Regions from separate parts of the Homo sapiens genome. Here region 1 is linked to region 2. The links come from fine-mapping of genetic effects on gene expression. A gene starts in region 2. The other region holds a variant in brackets. All regions are shown on one strand. Distances are from middle to middle. Region 1 has its middle 7.6 kb from the start of LINC02967. Region 2 holds the start of CST7 (cystatin F).

The links. PIP is the estimated chance that this variant, and not a neighbour inherited with it, causes the effect. A credible set is the group of variants that fine-mapping cannot tell apart.
Region 1: its variant is the best candidate, but not a certain one, in a credible set for the expression of CST7 in skeletal muscle (GTEx, PIP 0.79).

What each region holds. Positions count from the first base shown.
Region 1 is chr20:24,908,788-24,913,170 of GRCh38, reverse strand. No RefSeq gene overlaps it. Among named protein-coding and RNA genes, the nearest start is that of LINC02967, 7.6 kb to the left of the region's middle. The variant G/A (reference allele first, on the strand shown) is at 1,912.
Region 2 is chr20:24,946,932-24,951,314 of GRCh38, reverse strand. It overlaps CST7 (cystatin F), which reads right to left and starts at 2,046. Exons shown (of 4, transcript NM_003650.4): 1 at 1,740-2,046. The coding sequence starts at 1,809. RefSeq lists an enhancer at 2,331-2,380.

The DNA of each region.
Region 1 (4,383 bases), 38 kb after region 2:
CTTTCCCACCCCTGCCTGCATGCAGGTCCCGCCTGGTGGTGCTGCCTCCCACTGCTGCATGCCTTGAGCCCCTAGGCTCCTTTGGATGGTCTTTGTCTGTTTCTGTGCCAGGGCACATGGCGGGAGGGCAGGCTATGGGCCGGGCAGGGTCATGAGCCATCTGAACAGGGAGGGCTAAGGCAGCTGTGGCCATGGACACTGGGGCTCAGGCTCCCTGGGAGCCTCATGCTGGCCACAGGAGGGGAGGTGGCTGCTAAGCTCAAGGTGGAGGGCAGCAGCCCTGGACTGTGCCTCCCGCATGCAAGAGCAGGCAGAGATGGTGCTGGCGGTGGCCCCTGGGTCAGCGGGTTGGAGCCCAGAGAGGCACTGGGGTGTGGGTGGGGTCCCTGGGGCTTTCTGGCTCTTCCAGTGCTGCTCATCAGAACAGCCAGCAAACCTGGGAACACGCAGCCAATGTTCCTCAAGGACCCCTCATTCTTCTCCATGAAAAACTCCATAAAATATTTGAATAAATTTATTCTGTGCCACATATAAGGACCAAGGGCCCATGACACAGCCCCAGGAGATCCCCAGGGTGATCGGGCTGCAGCTTGTTTTTGAGTTTTAGGGAGACATAAGACATCAATCAATACATGGAAGGTGTACATTGGTTCAGTCCAGAAAGGCAGGGCAACTCAAAGAGGAGGAGGCTTCCAGGTCATAGGTGGATCGGCAACTGGCTGAAAGAGTTATTATCCAAAGACCTGGAATCAATAGAAGGGAATGTATGGGTTAAGATGGGGGATTGTGGAGAGCAGGATTTATCACGCAGATGAAGCCTCCAGGTAGCGGCTTCAGAGCTCTTATCAGACCTGAACGGGTGCCAGGCCCTTAGTTAATTCTCTCCTGGATCATGGAAGAGACCTGGAAAGGAAGGGGATTCTCTACAGAATGTGGATTCTCCCCACAAGAGACAGCTTTGCAGGGACATTTCAAAACATGTCAAAAAAAGATATTTTAGTGTAAAATACTTCGGTTTCTTTCAGGGCCTGCTGCCTGTCATGTGGGGCTATACTAGAGTTAGGTTGGAATTTGGTGTCTCATTGCTACAGGGTCTTGCCCTATTTTGATGTCAATGCTGGTCAGCTGTGCCTGGATTCAAATGAGAGGAGGAAATAATGAGGTCTGTCCGGCCCCCACCTTCCCATCATGGCCAGAATTAGATGTTCAGGTTTATGTTGGAATGTCCTTGGCTGAGAGGAGGGGTCCAGCAGTCGGTTAGGGGACTCAGAATTTTATTTCTGGTTTCATTCTGTAGATCAGAGTGTGGAGCCCAGGAATGAGCATTTCACAGGCTCCCATGCACCCAGGTAGAACCTTGTGCATGGTGTCTCCACGGGGTTCACAGGCAGGCTACCCAGCTGAGGCTCCTGCCCCGCCTCACTCACTTTCTCTCCAGGACCTCCCTCCTGTTTCTCCCAGCATGAGTGCTGATGTAAATTTATGGAGATGGCGTTTCTGCCTCAATCCCCTTCTGCTCTGATGACCCATTATGACTGTGTAATTAAGCTCCCGTGGATCTTCCCCGCAGGCATCTGTAGCTCCCGGGTGTCACTCATCTGCCCAGTGCTGACATGGAACTGAGGATAAATGTATTTCACCGGCTTTTGTTCTATCATTAACTTCTGTAGCTCTTGTGTAAATTTCCAGGTTGCAATTTCTGCATTGGTCTTTATTGAGCAAACCCCCCTTTGTGTGGATGAGTTTAGGGTTGATTTCCCCTCTTCTCTCGCCCTTGACCCATCCTTGGTGACCGTGGTTAGTCTCCAGGGGGCTCTGCCCTAGGTGTGTTCAGCTGGCTTAGATTTGCAGATTATTCCATGTGGTTGGTGTTGGTGTCAGTTACCACCTGATGTGGGAGAACCGCGATCC[G/A]GGATTGGAAGGGATCTCACTCAGTTCTTCATTTGATTTCTTCCTGCAACATTTTATTATAAAGGTTTTTAAACTTTTCCAGGAAAGCTGGATGAATTGTTCAGTGAACACTCACATGCCCACACGCTAGATTTCACAGTGAACTCTTTCTTCATTTATCCTGTATCTATCCATTTATCCATGCATGAATTTGATTATTGTTTTGGCACTTTTCAAAGTAAACTGCACTACAGTGAATGTTAAATTCCCAGGACCCCCCCGTCCCAATGCCTGCTTGATCTCTGTTCAAGAGATGGAGAGCACAGGGCTGGGCCCATGCCCAGGTCTTCTTATGCAGGGGACTCTCCAGCTTCTCTCACCAGCTCCCAGGGGAGGCTGGTGCTGCCCACCCAGGGCCCCACCTGGAGAATTGCTGGTCTAAGCTTACACAGTTTCCTGGGGAATCAATTGTCCCTAAAAAAGCCAGAAGGTCTAGAGTGGTAGCCAGAGTCCTGGGCGTCCTGCCTGAGGATGCCTGTCTTACTCTCGAGGCAGCCATACCAGCCCCTCTGCAGGTGGCCTCAGGCACTCTGGCTGCCAGCCAGGGGCAGGTGCCTCCCTGGAGCAGGTTGCTTGCATTTGGTGCATGGCTCCCTCTCAGGTGGGGTCTTCTCAGGGGCTGGCCAGGCCATAGAGTACCCTCTGTGACTCTCTCCATTCCCACGTGTCACTAGCTCTGCTGAGCACCTGGGGCTGGGGTCCTGGCCAAGTCCCCAGAGAGTGGTGTCACCATTAGAACTGGATGAACCCTGGCACCCAGCAACCCATCTTTGCCCAATTTATTTCCTCACTGTCCAAAGCTAAAATGTTGTATTAAAAGACAAATGCGTGCCTGGACAGTACTTTTACCTCTTTATGCAGGCTGGGGAATGCTGAATTTCACCCTCTGCTCTTGCAAATTAAGTAATTAAGGAAAGAGTGAACCTGTGATAATTGTAGGTGCTTATTGTTACTGATGAAGATGTCCAGGCAGGGATGAGTGTGGATTTCATTAATTTCTCCATGCTTTGGGGTTTGGCTTGAACTCAAAGGCCTTCCTTGAGTGAACTCTTATAAAATCTTTAATTAACTCTTGCCGGTGTCAATATGTTTTATTACCTTCTGCAGCCCACAGCCTCCCCTGGTGTCCAATTTACTTCGATGCTCCTGGGCTGCCAGGACGGAGGCTGGTGCTATGCTCTGCCATGGGGTGGATTAAGTTGCTTTATGTGTTCTGGCTAGAGGGCAATTCCTCTCCATCAGAAATGATGATGGTCACTTTTCTACGGGGGGGCACCCAAGGTTGCAGTGAGAACTTACTGCATCAGAAACAAAAGGGCTGAACTTGGAAACAAGACCTTGGCCATCAAAGGCATGCATAGACGTGGCCTGTGAAGACTCATGCTCGGGTCCAGACCATCGCTTGTAAGTGGTGGGGTGCGGATCAGGGATGTTGCCCTACAGAAGTGAGGCAAGGGGCTCACCCCAGGCCCCATGTGGGCACATCACTGCTGACCCCTGAAGTTTACTGGGCTGGGGTCCACAGCTGGCCAGCCCCCCTGGGGAAGGAGCAGGAATTAAGCTTTTCCATTTTGTGTCTCGGGGCTGTCAAGGGGATCGGATGTCAGCAGTGTGTGGCTCCTCCTGGGGTTACCTGCCCATTGCATCCCCGCCCACAGAACCAGGAGGGCTGGGAGGCAGCCAGCCCCAACCAGGGAGGGACAGGGTCAGTGGGTGAACACTGCCTGCCTATGGGGGGCCCCCGAGGGGCACCTTCCACAGTGTCAGAACTCCCAGCGGGATGGGTGAGACAGTGGCTGAGCTGTGGGCAATAGTGAGCCCCTTTCCGGGCCTTGCCACCCACCCTTGTCCTGTTGCCTGGAGTAGTCCTCCCAGTAAACTGCCCACAGCAAGCCCTTTCTCCCAGTATGCTTTGGGGAAGCCCAATAAAGACAAAGATGTCAGAGGTGAGGTGATGTGGGGAAAGGTCAGAGCATGGACGGCGGTCTGAGGAGGAGGCCGTGGAGAAAATGGGAAGAAATAATGAGAATTTCATTTGAAATACACATTTGTACACATCATTCCCCAAACCCAGGTCATAAACTCCAGCACCCTGGAGCCAGGAGGTCCCTGGCAGGTAGTCACTGCCCTGAGGCACAAGACTGAGGTCTTTCATGGCTGAGGGGTTGAGTTCTGTTGGGTGGAGGTGCCTCAGCCTGCCTTGAATTCCCTGTGACACCAAATCCAAATAAATCCAATGTTGATCTTTGAGGCTGGTGTCTTAGTCTGTTTTCTGTAGCTATAACTGGACACCAGAGACTGGGTAATTTGTATAAAAAAAGAAATTTATTTAGCTAATGGTTTTGGAGGCTGGGAAGTCCAAGGGCATGGCAGTAGCTTCTGGCATGAGCAGACAGCATCACAGGGCCGGAGGAGCATCACAGTGCATCACAG
Region 2 (4,383 bases):
CTGTGCCTTCCCCGAGCCACCTCTGTTCAGCCTCCCCAGGGCCGGAGACGGGGTGCAGTTATCTTCCCATTTCATGGATGGTAGGACTGAGGCTGAGGGCCCGCTCTGTGTGTGTGAACGTGGGCTCTGGAGCTTCTCTCTGGGGTTTGGTGGCTGACAGCAGGTCTGCTGAGAATGGAGGGAAAGGCTTGGTGCAGCATTACATACCAGCGAGGGGCCGGGAACACCACCCAGGAAAATGACGTTGCCAGCTGCCCAGCACATCGGCTCCCACGCCACCCTGTTATAGTCCCTAGCCTGCTCCGTGAGATGAGCAGAGCTCTGAAACCCCTCAGCAGTCAGTAGGTTTAATTAGATCCCAGGACACGCTAGGACAGCTGGCTCCATGTCCCCTCCAGGAGAGCCTTTTCTGAGGTGTGAGAACGAGCCACTTCTCTGGAGTGAACTTGCCTCTCTTCCCTGCTTCCCCCTTGGACCTTGGAGACACGAAGGGGCAGGGCACAGAATGGCAGCAGGCAGGCAGCACTGCATCAGGACAGGGCCAGGAGGAGAGGCCCCTGTGAGGCTGGGAAGCAGGTGGAGGGCTCCTTGCGTGAGCTAAGAAGGCTCCCAAGCTGGGAGGCAGGGCCGGGTATGCTGTCCCCAGCCTTCTGCCAGCCATGGGTCAGCTCCATGTTCGCTGAGCACTACCCAGAGCTGGTGGCGGTGGCATGTTCCCATCAGTGAGAGCAGAAGCTGCCCCCGGCCCCTCCTCCAGCCTGCCGTGTCCCCTTGGCTGCTCAGTCGCAGCGTCCGCCCTAGGCCAGGCCTGGGAGCTCGACACAGTGTCCCCCAGCATCACTGAGTCCTCAGTATCCTGACTCACCAGGAGGAGGTGAGAACCCTCCAAGAACCCCTTGGGTGCTCTGGAGCCATCCTCTTGTCAGTGGTCCTGCTGCACAGCCCCCACCTGGGCCCCTTTGGCCAGGCTCCAGCCCCCTTCTGTCCCTGTCTGCTGGGTGGGGGTCATATGACTTGAGCGGGTCACCTCAGCCCTCTGGTGCCAGCTTCCTGGTTGGTTAAATGAGGTGGGGGCCTCCCAAGTCCCCATCAGTATCCTGGTCTGATTCCTGTGCCAGGGAGGCCATGGCCCAGTTCCCTTTGGGGGAGAGCAGGTTGTCCCTGGCTGTGTGACTTGGGCAAATCACCTAGCCTGGCTGTGTCTCAGTTTCCCAGTGCACAGGCAGTGGCTCTTTCCTCCCTGTCCCCCCTCCCCCTGAGTGCTGACCCTCAGGGAGTGGATTTCAGGAAGGGTGAAAGAGTCTGATCGTTAGGGTCCCTGGAGCCAAGTCACAGGACAACAGCCAGCAGGAAGGAATGACAAGCCATCAGATAGAAGCGGCTAACCACAGGCATGTGGCTGCCCTGTCGCCTCCGTCCCGCAGAGGAGCTGCGGGAGACCTGCCTTACTTAGACCTTTCTCAGACCTCTGTGAAGAGCCAGAGAATAGAAGATGCTTCCCTTGCCCCTAGCCTTCTGGGGCAGCCCCCAAACCCTTCATCCCTGTAGCCTGCTACCCCCAAAGGTAGCTGCAGCCAGATGGAGCCCCTTGCCCCTCTCACCACTCCCAGCACCTCTCACCACCGCATGGTCCTGTGGGGGCTCCAAGCTAGGAAAGTGCCCTGGGGAAGACCCAAGGCACCAGTGGCCAATCTCAGGGAGAGACCCCCGGGGAGCGGACAGGGGAGAACGCCACTTACCTGGGGAAGGGCCCCCAGTGGTGCTCAAGACCAGGCAGCAGAAGGCCAGCAGAGTTCCAGCCGCTCGCATGGCTGCCCGGGTAGGGACAGTGCGGGGCAGTTGGGGGTGGCCGTGCAGTGCCTTCTCAGGCAGCATGGGGCAGTTGGAGGCAGTGGTTGGTGCCCGTGCCGAGCCTTCTTGGGTAGATGGCGCAGGGCAGGTGGGGGCAGTGGTCTGTGCCCGTGCCAATCCTTCTCAGGCAGCACGGGCCAGTGCCGGGCAATGGTTTGTGCCTGTGCTGAGCCTTCTTGGGCAGCATGGAACAGTGGGCTGTCCCAGCCCAGGGGCAGGTGCCAGGGCCACAGCATGGAACCCCACCCTGCAAACCACTGTGGGATGGGGCAGGGGCGGGGCTAGGGGGCTGCCTGCGTGGTGCTGGGGAGGGGAGTGTTTTGCTGCTGAATCATTTTGGCCAGAAGCTCTTCACCTTCAGATCTATCAGCCACAAAGCAACCGCTTCCTTTATAAAAGTTTCCGAGCAGCCGTCATTTGCTGGGGGAGGAGGAAGAGACATGAGACCCATGAGCAAATCCTGATGCAATGTTCTACCCCTGAGCCACACACGAAAGAGATGTTGCATGAAAAACATTAGCAGGAATTTTCAAAAGCAAAATCACTTGATTTTCCTTTTTCTTTTAATTACTTAAGTTCTGGGGTACATGTGCAGAACATGCAGGTTTGTTACATAGGTATACACGTGCCATGGTGGTTTGCTGCACCCATCAACCCATCATCTACATTAGGTATTTCTCCAAATGCTATCCCTCCCCTGGCCCCGGATCCCCAGATAGTCCTTGGTGTGTGATGTTCCCCTCCCTGTGTCCATGTGTTCTCATTGTTCAACTCCCACCTATGAATGAGAACATGCGGTGTTTGGTTTTCTGTTCTTGTGTTAGTTTGCTGAGAATGATGGTTTCCAGCTTCATCCATGTCCCTGCAAAGGACATGAACTCATCTTTTTTATGGCTGCATAGTATTCCATGGTGTATATGTGCCACATTTTCTTTATCCAGTCTACCATTGATGGGCATTTGGGTTGGTTCCAAGTCTTTGCTATTGTGACTAGTGCTGCAGTAAACATACGTGTGCATGTGTCTTTATAGTAGAATGATTTTTGAGTATATACCCAGTAATGAAATTGCTGGGTCAAATGGTATTTCTGGTTCTAGATCCTTGAGGAATCACCACACTGTCTTCCACAATGGTTGAACTAATTTACACTCCCACCAACAGTGTAAAAGCGTTCCTATTTCTCCACATCCTCTCCAGCATCTGTTGCTTCCTGACTTTTTAACGATCACCATTCTAACTGGCATGAGATGGTACCTCATTGTGGTTTTGATTTGCATTTCTCTAATGACCAGTGATGATGAGCGTTTTTTCATATGTTTCTTGGCTGCATAAATGTCTTCTTTTTAGTGTCTGTTCATATCCTTCACCCAATTTTTGATGGGGTTGTTTTTTTCTTGTCAATTGTTTAAGTTCCTTGTAGATTCTCGACATTAGCTCTTTGTCAAATGGATATATTGCAAAAATTTTCTCCCATTCTGTAGGTTGCCTGTTCACTCTGATGACAGTTTCTTTTGCTGTGTGGAAGTTCATTAGTTTAATTAGGTCCCATTTATCAATTTTGGCTTTTGTTGCTATTCCTTTTGGTGTTTTAGTCATGAAGTCTTTGCCCATGCCTATGTCCTGAATGGTACTGCCTAGGTTTTCTTCTAGGGTTTTTATGGTTTTAGGTCTTAAGTCCTTAATCCATGTTGAGTTAATTTTTGTATAAGGTGTAAGGAAGGGGTCCAGTTTCAGTTTTCTGCAAATGGCTAGCCAGTTTTCCCAACACCATTTATTAAATAGGGAATCCTTTCCCCATTGGTTGTTTTAGTCAGGTTTGTCAAAGATCAGGTGGTTGTTGATGTGTGGTGTTATTTCTGGGCTTCTGTTCTGTTCCATTGGTCTATATATCTGTTTTGGTACCAGTACCATGCTGTTTTGGTTACTGTAGGCTTGTAGTATGGTTTGAAGTCAGATAGCATGATGCCTCCAGCTTTGTTCTTTTTGCTTAGGATTGTCTTGGCTATGCAGGCTCTTTTTTGGTTCCCTATGAACTTTAAAGTAGTTTTTTCCAATTCTGTGAAGAAAGTCAATGATAGCTTGATGGGGGATATCACTGAATCTATAAATTACTTTGGGCAGTATGGCCATTTTCACAACATTGATTCTTCCTATCCATGAGCATGGAATGTTTTTCCATTTATTTGTATCCTCTCTTATTTCCTTGAACAGTGGTTTGTAGTTCTCCTTGAAGAGGTCCTTCACATCCCTTGTAAGTTGTATTCCTAGGTATTTTATTCTCTTTGTAGCAATTGTGAATGGGAGTTCACTTATAATTTCACTCTCTGTTTGTCTATTATTGGTGTATAGGAATGTTTGTGATTTTTGCACATTGATTTTGTATCCTGAGACTTTGCTGAAGTTGCTTATCAGCTTGTGGAGATTTTGGGCTGAGATGATGGGGTTTTCTAAATATACAGTCATGTCATCTGCAAACAGAGACAATTTGACTCCCTCTTTTCCTATTTGAATACTCTTTATTTCCTTCTCCTG